Regions from separate parts of the Homo sapiens genome. Here region 1 is linked to region 2. The links come from fine-mapping of genetic effects on gene expression. Tissue or cell type: gastroesophageal junction. Region 2 holds a variant in brackets; the other region holds the start of a gene. All regions are shown on one strand. Distances are between the middles of the regions.

Region 1 (5,362 bases), 47 kb before region 2:
AGATGTCCCCAGCGAGGGGGCGACGCGCGCCCGCTGCCCGCGCCCTAGACGCCGAGGCCGCGCTCCCCACTGTTTTTTCCCCAGCCCAGACGCCAGGAATGTGAAGCAAGCTTCCAGAACCCGCCTCCCCCCCCCGACCCCGGCTCCAGCCCCGGCCCCCCAACCTCCGCCCCGGCTGGCCTCCCACTCCCCCGGGGCCACCGCCGCCGGAGACGGAGAGGAAGAAAGAACACGGGGAAATTACTTTCGTATTTGCAACGCGCGCGCGCACACACACGCACATCTTCCCCCTGGGCTCCCCTCCTGGCCGGGGCAGCCCCGTCCAGGCACTGGCCTGAGCGCCCCTCTGGCTTGCGAAGCCCTGGGAGAAAACCCTGCACACACACCTCCGCGTTTCTCGTTTGTACCGCGCGCCAGCTTTCCCCGGGCAATTCCCACACAAACAACTTAACCGCGCCCCCACCTCCCATTTACAAAAGTGTATGTTTTCCCTGGAAATTCAGACGCACAAGTTAACACCACCACCCCTTGCCATCCTGAAATCCAGCGCTTTCCCCAGCGGTTCCTGTACACACACAGGCGCACAACTTCGCATCTCCCCAGAGGAGGCGAAGGAGACCGAGGCGGTCCTTCCCTCCCTCCTCCGATTCCCGGTCCTGCCCGGCCCCCGGGTGTAGGGAGCGAGGGCTGGAGGCGCGCCGGCAGGAGGCGGGCACCGGGTCCGCGCGCGCACGACCACACTTACGCCCCGCACACCCTGACAAACCCGGCCCCCACGCGCAGCCCAAGCCGGCTCCGCGCAGCCGGGAGCTCGCCGGCCGCCGGGCCTCGGCCCCCGGCCGCCAAGGAGAGCGGAGCGGAGCCCGCGCCGCCGGCCGGTCGCCCCGCTCCGGGGGACACTTTAAGGGAAAAACCCCAGCACCCAATCCCCACGCTTGCACCCCGAGAGTCCCCGGGGAGCGGGAGGTAGCCCCGGAGCCAGCGGGCGCCTGGCTCTGGCCCCAAACTTACCGGGCGCTGCGAGCGCCGCTGCCGCCGCTGGAGGACGCGCCGCCGCCACCGCCGGGTAGGGCAGGCTCGGGCCGGGAGGAGCGCAGCGAGGGCGCCGAGATCCGCTCGGCTCCGGCTCCTGCTCCGCGCCGGCTGGGGCTGGGGTCACCGCGCTGCGCCGGCGTTGCTCGCTCGCTCGGCCGCCCGATCGCTGCTCGCCCGCCTGCCGCCCGGCCGCCCGCTCTCCCCGGCGCCCGCCGCCGCCGCTCGCTTTTTTAATGTCCACAGACAGTGAAAAGGAACTCGGCGTTAGGGGGTGAGTAAGTGAATCAACTCGCCCGGAGCCGAGCAAGTTGAAGTGTCAGATTACATTGGCTATTCTATTTCCAAAGGGCCCCGCGCCGCCGGCCGCCCGCAAAAGCCGGTGCGGAGTCAGGCCGGAGTGGAGCGCCGCGCCGCGCCGCCGCCGCTGCCGGCGCTCGGCTTGGCTCGCGCTCTGCGCTCTCTTTCCCCTTTCCTTTTCGCCTCTCCTCGTTCTCTCCCTCGCCTTTCCTTTCCTTTCTCTTCCTCTCTTCCTCGCTCCTCGGTCTCGGCGCTCTCCCAGCTTTTCTTCTCCTGGCTCCTGGTTCCCCGCTACGCCACCAGTCCACTCACCTCTCTCCTTGCCCTACTCCCTCCGCTACTCCCTGACGCCCCCTGCAGCCCCCAGCCCCCCTGCAGGCCCCAGCCCCAGTAAGTTTGGAGAGGGGAACAAATGCTGAGCCTAGGTAGGGACCACCTTGGGGAGGAAGCCAAAATCACACTGCTCACCCGAGAGCCCCTGCCCCGCGCTGGCACGCCCCCGCCTGGAGTGCACTCGTGGCCCCGGGCGCTGTCAGGTACCCGAATTGGGGTAAGCGAGTTGGTAACTGGACCTCCAAAGCCTTCCCCTGGGGTTGACTTTGGAATTGTTCCTACAGCCCGGGGACTGGTGGTTGGGGTGGGAAGAGGACCACCACCACCAAGGGTGACTTTGAGGGAGACTAGAGCGCGGCCCCCCGACAGCTGTGGGGGAGCGGGGGTGTGGTGGCCACAGTTGATCCGCGGCACCTAGCACAGTCCAGAGACGCGTGGATTCCCCTAGGCCCGGCGCGGAGCGCCCGGGGCGCTGTGCGCGCGGGCTGCGTGGGAGCTGCTAGGCTGGGGCCTGGCCCTCTGCCCCGGACTGGGCACTGCCAGAGATAGCGGAGAGCTAAGGTACTCACGAGGCGCAGTTGGGTGCACCCACTCGCGGGAGTTCCCCTAGCCGACCCACCCCCCCCCCCCGAGAGCATCCAACTACGCGCCCACTTTGGCTCACGTCCACTGCCACTCTCACGGAAACTCCTACAAGAACGGCACACACGTTCGCTCCCTCAGCATTGCAAACACGCTCCCCCCCAAACCACAAACGCGCCCCCACACACTCGCTTACTTTCCCTCACAAAGATGCCCGCTTACACGGCCACAGCAGGCACGCTCAGAGACACGCAGTTACACACACACATCGCTGTACACAACCCCACATACAATCAAAAAACAAAACACGAAACGTTCCCCTGGGCACTAAATCCTCACGTTAACGTACACACACAAACACACGCCCTCCTCTCCCACTTCCTCTTCCATACCCCTTCCTCGAGGCCCCCCACCCCTGATTTTCGGCACCCCCAGTCCCAATCATAATTGGCGCCCGCGCAGCCCTCTTTGGACACACACGCGCCGCCCACGCACGCGCTCCCCTCCCCGGCAGGCGGGGGCGGCTTCGGCCGGGAGCCGGCGGAGCCCGCTTCGGATTCCAGGTGTGGCAGTGACTCCGCGCTCCACGTTTTGCAGGCTGCCACCGTGTCGGAGGCGAGGCGAGGAAGGGAGCTGGAATAACAAAGGCAAGTTGGGGAGAGCGCAAGGGGGCGCAGCCCCGGCCGGGCTGCGGGGGGAGCCTTGCACGGCCGGGGCTTCGGAGGCTGCAGGGTCGGGGGCGCGGGGAGCCGGAGGTGGGGGAGGAAGGGTGGGGGGAGAGGGGCGGGGCTGAGGCGTGACGTCAGAGAACAATGACACCGCCGGGGGGCGGGCACCCGGAGGCGGCCCAGGCGGGGGTCTCCCCCGGGGCCTGGGGCGGGCCGAAGATGTCCAGGCCTGGCCGGAGCCGCCTCCTGATTGACGAGGCCCGCATGGGAGTGCGGACGTGCAGCACAGATTTGCGGGTCTCCTGGGCCTCTTGGGCGGTGATCAGCGCGGACCTTGGGCCAACCGGGGAAGCAGGCCGGAGCACTACCCCCCACCCCCATTTTAGAACATCCTTCTGAGGGCTTCGCTGACCTCGGCTTGAACTCCTTCAGAGCCGGAGAGATCACTCCTTCCACCACCGAGGGAGAGGAGGCAAAATGAATTTGCCAGCTTTGAATTCATTCTCAAGGCTCCGCTAGTCTCACAGCCAGTGAACTCAGTCTGGAATTCCTGAAAGCTCAGAAAACTGCTGCTTAGGTCCACCCGGGCGTGGGGGACGGGGTGTGTGGGGGCGCAGGCGGCGGAGTGGGGGCGTTATTTTATTTTCCCCAGGGGAAATTCTGCCTCCCTATGCCATTGGGTGCAAGAAAAGGCACTCCTTTGGGGCCTCAGTCTTCCTACCTGTCACATGGACATGGACTGTGATGACTGCTGCTCTTCCACCCCCGCCCTCCCTGTAGGTGGCAGCTGAGCATCCCTGGAGAGGGTGGGTGGTATGAAAGCACTTCCAGACCTCTAGGGACACCAGGGAGTCATGGTCCCAGCACATTGCTGTGTGATTGAGCCCCTCCTCAGCCTGTGGGTGGCCTAAGTTCACAGGTAGGTACACCAGGGCCACCTGAGAAACCTCCGAAGGTAGGAATTAAGCTTGCAGAACGGTGGCTGCAGCCACAGCTGTCCCACTCCCAGCAATCCACAGCATTGCAGCAGTGGCAGCAGCCACCCCATACCCAGGTCCAAAATCCCAAAAGAGAGTTTCTGGGTATTTAAGGATTTGGGATGTGATAATCCAGCCCAGCCCACAATTAGACCAGTTCTTGTTGCCTTAATGACCAGCTAGGTCTGGACGCCCAGCCCTCTCAACCTTTCTGTCCAGATTCCTCAATAAGTATCCAGGGCCTGCCCACTTCCAGGAATTGGGGGATGCAGGTGACCTCGGAGGTGACCACTCATGTTCAAAGTCTCCTGTCCAGAAGCTCCACCCCCTACCCCACATCCCAGCCCCCTACTCTCCCACCAGTATTTACATCTGAAACCCAGGAAGTGGCTGCAGAGGGCAGAGGAGCCAAGTAGGCTCAACTTAGTAGCATGGAACCAGGGATCATTTCAACCCTCCCCTTCTGTGCAAGCATGGCAGCAAGTCAGAAAGCCCACCAGGGTCCTGGGTCTTCCCTAGGCTCCAGTCCTTGGGTCTCTGAGGCCCTTGCTCTCTTTGTTCATCTTCCAGGGAGGTAATGGGGTAGATTGGATACCTCTGGGGTCTTGGAAGAAGCTATGACTTATTTACTGTCTACTATGTGGTGAGTACTGTGGTGGGTCCTCCTAGGTATTGAGAATTCAGTTCCCTGATTGAACTGTCACATTGTCTTAAGTTAGGTGCCGCTACCATCCCCCTTTCAGAGGAAACTCAACTGTGAATGACTTGCCCAAGATTGGTCAGGATGGGAACTCGGGCCCCCATGAACAGAGTTTCCTGTTGTCCCCTCAGCCCTGGCTCTGTTCATCCATAGACTGTGTAGCCCCAAGCAAGCTGCTTTCCCCCTCTGAGCCCCTGTAAGGTCCATGGTGCCATCAGGACTCACTGGGAACTGTGTGTCCAACAACCTCACCCCCAAAGTCTCAGCCTCACTGGGCCTGGAGATCTGCTGGTGAGACAAGAGAGGACAGTGCCATCACTTCCTCGTGGCCCAGAGCTGGAAGATGCATCCTGCTCAGCCCCTGCAGGCCCAGAAGTCACCTGGCTCCACTAGGAGGGCATGGGCAGTGTGGGGCCGCCAGGTTGTACCAACCTTCAGAGCACACTCAAGTGCTGTTAATTTCCCTGTCCTGTGGGAGCCACCAGCAGATTGGGGAGAGGACCATTGCTGGGGCCTGGGCCCAGGTTTCAGGAGGCAGAAAATCTGGAGGCCAGCAGGATGGTGGGGGTGGGAGGCTTGAGGTCCCTGAGGGAAGCAAAGGACTTGTGTAGGGTGCGGCGAGTATGGCCTCCTAGGCTGGGCTGGGATGGGGGCGGGTACACAGTGGGGATTCCCACCTGTCCAGGAGCTGCCTTCTCTGTCCCCACTCTCCACCTCTCACTTCTGGAACTTAAGGGAGCCAGGGAACATCTAAAATTGAGACTAGAGAG
Region 2 (5,362 bases):
TGACTTCTGAGAAGAGGAGTGGACGGTTGTGTGGATGTGGGGTTGCTGGATGGCCCCTCCCCCCAGGGAGCTTACACTCTCACTGGGACCGGTTGGACAGGACAGGAGAGTGGGCTCTGGTTCCAGTTCTGCTTCTGACCTGCTCCTGGCCTTGCTGTTCATCCCTCAGTAAAACTGAGAGCTTAAGCTCTGTGACCTTGGAGACCATTTCCTGCTGTGATATTAATACCACCGCTAATAATGACAGTAGCAGTCGAGGGAGGAGCAAGCATGCTAATATTAGCCACACCTGTTGAGGGCCCGGCACACGCCAGGCCCTTACATATGTGATGATGTCAGTCCTCGTGATGAGCTGCACTCAGCATCTCCACGTTGACTGCGAGGGACCGCTGGATCCCAGAGCCAGGACAGAACTCAAGGCTATTTTGGTTGGGAAGAAAAGAGGTGTTCAGCTGACCTCAAGTACGGGAGGGTTGAGTGAAACGAGCATCATTGTGGGAACCTGGGTGAATCAAAGCAGTGGGTTGCAGACAGAGCTGGGACTGCAGTGTGGAGCTCCAGGGAGCCAGAGGCACCCTGTGCATCTGCCACAAGTCCCTGAAGCTGCAGTCCTGGCATCATCCCCAGGTACCTCCGTCTCCGCTGCTTCTCTGCTTCTTCCTGTTGCACGCCGTCTCCTGCATTCATTTCTTCCTGTGTATCTGGCCTGGACCTCAGCCCCTGCTCCTTATAGACGTGGCTGCTCTGCGGCCCTAACTCCTCCCTGGCTTCCCTCCAGGCCTCCTTACAGGCCCTCTCCCTCGGCTGCCTGCCCAGTTCACCGTGCATAGCCCTGTTGCTCCCCTCAATCCCTGCCGATTCCCACACCACCGTTTGCCTCTGGATTGGTTGCCCACTAGTCAGGTCCCGCCCTTCATCCAATCAGCTGTGGTGGGCGGGACACTTCCTCCAGCCGTCCTCAAGCCTGGCCTCAGGACCCTGTCACATTCTGAAAAGTTGTTGACGACCCGAAAGAGCTTTGGTTTAGGCAAAATATTGTTAAATATCTCTGGATATTTACCACATTAAAAATTAAAACTGAGAAATTACAAAATATTTTTTAATTCTTTAAGAACAACAAGAATAAACACTACACATGAACGTATATTTTTCATAAAAAATAACTATTTTCCTAAAACAAAGAAAGTTGAGCAGAAGAGTGACATTCCTTTAGGTTTTTGTGAATCTCTCTGGTGATTCACTTCAGAGGAGGCAACTGGGTTCTCCTGTGTGCTTCTTTCTGCATTCGACTTCTTGAGAGCCGCGTGGTCTTGAATCCTCTAGAAAAATGCCACAGTATGCTTGCATCAGACAGCGTAAAAGGCAAATACTGCCTTCTAGCTTTGCAGGCTCTCGAAGAAAAGCAGTGACTCAGGTGGTGCCTGAAGCCCTGCAGGGCCTCTTGGGTGTGCGGTGATCTTCCTTACCCTGAGGAAGGCCAGAGGAACCCAGCAAACAGCCTAGCCTAGGCAGGGCACCGGGTTCCCAGAGCTCAGCCGTCCAGTGGTGGAACTTTGAGCTGGACTGGGGGCAGCCGGGGCTAAGAACAACTTCCTGGGGGACGCAGTAGGTAAATGAAGCCATGAAAAATGAGCATTTAGGGGAGGCAGAAGGGAAAGGAGAAGTTTTCCAGGCAGTAGAAAATGATTGGGCACATCTTCAAAGTGGGAAAGTGAGGCATCGAGCCAAGGCTGGCTGAGACCTTGACGCCCCAAGTACTGACAGGATCATGGTGGTGTCCAGTCCCACCCTGCGTAGCTCAACATCAAGTTTATTTTCCATAGTGACGCTAAGCTTCCTTGCAAGTTGAAGTTAAAATAGCCTCTTTCTAGGTTCTGGATTGCAATCTTGTGGGTAAATGCACAGATGCTGGACCGATCTCATTTTTTTGATGCCATGCTGCATTAGCACCCAAGGGATGGGCTCCCTCTGCCTCTCAGGTCATGTATGGGCACTAAGGGTGAATGATGAGTAGGGTGGGTGGGGATGGGGGCCCTGAAAAGAACCTGGCAGCACCCCTAGAGCACCTGTGATTCAGGGCACCCCGTGCCAAGGGAGCAGCCTGGCCCGGAGCTGCCCTCTCAGCGGGGAGGAAGTAGAAGCCTCAGCCCAGCCTGGAACCTCCAAATCTGGGCGGGGAGTGTGAACCACCTTCCCTGCAGCCTCCAGTCTTTCCGCTTCCTTGTGGGGTGTGGACTTTGGAGGCTGATGGAAGGGTGCTGAGGAGGGGATGACCTTCACCCAAACAGAGAACTAGAGGACATGGGCTTGGTCAAGAGTGGAGGTCTCAGGGTTACGTGATGGTCTGTGGAACCACTGACAGTGTAAACTCCAGCCCTGCCTCTTATCTGTGCCTCAGTTTTTTGCTTGTTTGTTTGTTTTTGAGACAGAGTCTTTCTCTGTTGCCCAGGCTGGAGTGCAGTAGTGCAATCTCA[A/G]CTCACTGTAACCTCCACCTCCCAGGTTCAAGTGATTCTCCCGCCTTGGCCCTCCGAGTAGCTGGGATTACAGGCATGCCCCACCATGCCTGGATAATTTTTGTATTTTTAGTAAAGATGGGGTTTCACTATGTTGGCCAGGCTGGTCTTGAACTCCTGACCTCAAGTGATCTGCCCACCTCGGCCTCCCAAAGTGCTGGGATTATAGGCGTGAGCCACCGCACCCTGCCGATGCCTCAGTTTTCTTATCTGTAAAGCAAGGATGATGGCACCCAACTCCTGTGGGTGACTGTAGTAAAGGCTAAATGAGATCATAGGAATCAGGCATTTCGTGCAAAGCATGGGGCCAGCTCCACGAGGCATGAGCTTTGTTTCATCTCTCCTGTGCAGTGCTATAGATCAGGTCCTGGTTCATAGGAATTGCTCAATCAAATATTTTGGAGAGAAAAGTTAATAAATAAACATATCAGTGGCTCAGGTAATGTCAGTTCCTTCTCTAGGCAAGACCTAATCCATCTACCTTGTTTTACAGATGGGAAGATAAGACCCAGAAAACAGAAAGGACATGTTTAAGGCCATGCAGCAAGTTAGTGCCTGACCTGAATATTGAAGTGAGGCCCTACTACCATCAGCCATGGGAACCATGGCTGGATGGGTCCCAAGCAATGAAGACCTTCTGGGTGTCTAGGGGAGAGGTTTGGGCCCTCCTCCATGTGCGTGTGTGTGTGCGCGTGCAAGTGTGTGTGTCTGGGAAGCCAGAAGATTACACTCTTCTTTCTAGGCCTTCTAGCCCTTGCTGGAAGGCCTGTAGTGAGTGGATGGCCTGCCTTACCCTCTGCACATCCCGCCCTGTTTATTGAGATTTCCATCCAGCCTGAACTCCTGTGGGGAGGTGTTATCTTCTGGACCAGAGCCCTATCTGCCATGAAGCCATTGTGGTGTCACAGGGGCTTCTGAGAGATCCCAGGCTGGAGACGGAAAGCAGAAGATTTGAAGTGGTGGGAGGCAGGGGCTGGTGTCATAACACACTTTCCACCCCTGGGCTGGGAGGGGCACTCCCTCCTGCTGAACTCTCCCAGGCCAGTGACCTCATCTTGCTCCTGTGCTTGTTTTCCAAAGGGTGTTGTAAGTTGACTGTCTGCTTTCTTCCACAACACTCAAAGTGTGGCCTGTGGAGCAACAGCTTCAGCCACAGCTGGGAGCTGGTTAGAAGTGCAACATCTCAGGCCCCACCCTAGAACATTAACATCTCTGGAGGTAGGACCCAGGAATCTGTTTCACAAGTCCTCTTCTGATGCTTAGAAAAGTTTAAACATCACTGCTTTACTCTATTTCTCGACAAAAAGATGACATTCAGTTTGGCTAGAATTAAAAGGGGTGGGTGTTTCCTGGCAGGTTTTAGAAACCTATTTAAATGGTTCCATTGTCCATTCATCCATCCATCAACCCATCCAACCATCCAGCCAGCCATCCACCCTCTTTTCATTCAACAGACATTCAGCTGCACTCGGGAGTTGAAAGGGGAAGGCTCGGGACCCTGGGCTCCTCCAGCTTGCCGTGAGACACCACTGTGTGGCAGAAGAGGTGGCCTCTGTCCCCTTTATCCTCCAAGTGTACCTGTGGTCTTCAGGCCGGTCACTTGCTTGAATCTGAGTGTGTGTCTCTGATCTATAATCCTAAAAAAGCTACCTAATGCAGGTGTCCAAGAGGGAAAGGGGAAGGAATTGCATGCACTTGGTGTCTATTGTGTGCCAGGTGTGTTCACACGTGTTATGACCTTCCACTCTTCCAGCTGCCCTTCATACTGGATAGCATTATTCTTATTTTACAGAGAAGAATATTGAGGATCAAAGAGACCAAGACTGCAAGCGTAAAAACTAAGATTGGAACCAAAGCCAGTTCTTCTTGATCCCAGGGTCTGCGCCCTTCTTCTGTTCCATGTTTCATTGTTCTTGGTGGACCTGGGGATCAATAGCTAGAAGTTAAAGGACAAACTGATTTGGGAAGTGCTTCCAGTGCTGTCTTGAGTGATGTCTAGAGATTAGCAGACTGGCTGTGAAGTGGTGAGCTGCCCATCACTGGAACCGTGCAAGCAGAGACTGGTCATGGTGATCACGGTGTTGGTCCTGTGTGAGTGTGATGTGGGGAAGAATTGAGACCAGATGACCTTTGAGGGCCTTCTGCTGTCTGAGGCGGGCCTGCTTGGGCCTGCTCCCAGGTCAGTGCCCCATGGATGGAGCCTCTGAAGCCAGCTGCTCATTATCTGTGGATCCTCTGCGGGGACACTGCCAGCTCCCAAACAGGAAACATGTCCAGAAATCTGTAATTAGAGCTGGGAGCCACAGGCCTGAGAGGTGCCTGCTGCAGCTTCAAGTGCAGACACGCCACCCTGGTTAAGTCCCTGGGAGAGAACCCAGTGAGTCAGGCCCTCAGATCTTCTCCCTGCCTGTGGCACCCCCGCCCCACCCCATTCCCCTTGGAAGGAAACCTGCTTTGGCCAGGAACCTACTGGGTGAATGGGTTTCATATACATTCTCTCCTCTGTTCTTCCCCAGAACCGTGGGAGAGAGGAAACATCTGCCATGATGCAGGCAAGGAATGCAAAGCTCCCAGACATCATGTGGCTCACTCAAGGTCACCCTACTATGGCCCTTGCCTTTCTGAGTGCCTGGTTTGACCTCTTGATCCCTCCAGGGGAGAACGTCACAGTCAAAGGAGGGGTGCAAGAGGCCAGTGGCACACAGAGAGGTCTGTGTGGGCCTGAGTGGCTCCTGGGTCTTCCCTGACTGACCATAACGCCTTTCAGCCTTTCTGAATCTGCCATGAAGGGACGGGTCCTTGCAGTGTTCCTCTGCCAGGCTGCCTGGCAACCCATGGCAATTGTGGTG

Evidence for each region.
Region 1: it holds the start of ZMIZ1-AS1, and the variant in region 2 is fine-mapped to the expression of ZMIZ1-AS1 in gastroesophageal junction (GTEx, PIP 0.91).

What each region holds. Positions count from the first base shown.
Region 1 is chr10:79,064,920-79,070,281 of GRCh38, reverse strand. It overlaps ZMIZ1-AS1 (ZMIZ1 antisense RNA 1), which reads left to right and starts at 2,834. Exons shown (of 10, transcript NR_024431.2): 1 at 2,834-2,894; 2 at 3,696-3,834; 3 at 4,463-4,535. It overlaps ZMIZ1 (zinc finger MIZ-type containing 1), which reads right to left and starts at 1,316. Exons shown (of 25, transcript NM_020338.4): 1 at 1,012-1,316. RefSeq lists enhancers at 306-355, 1,557-2,402, silencers at 556-1,535, 1,796-1,865, 2,666-2,875, 2,976-3,025, 3,066-3,275 and a cis regulatory region at 998-1,683.
Region 2 is chr10:79,018,284-79,023,645 of GRCh38, reverse strand. The region is part of intron 5 of ZMIZ1-AS1 (ZMIZ1 antisense RNA 1); the gene reads left to right. LOC112268062 (a long non-coding RNA gene) reads left to right here and starts at 2,689. Exons shown (of 2, transcript XR_007062214.1): 1 at 2,689-3,731; 2 at 4,306-5,362. RefSeq lists an enhancer at 1-265 and a cis regulatory region at 1-455. The variant A/G (reference allele first, on the strand shown) is at 2,475.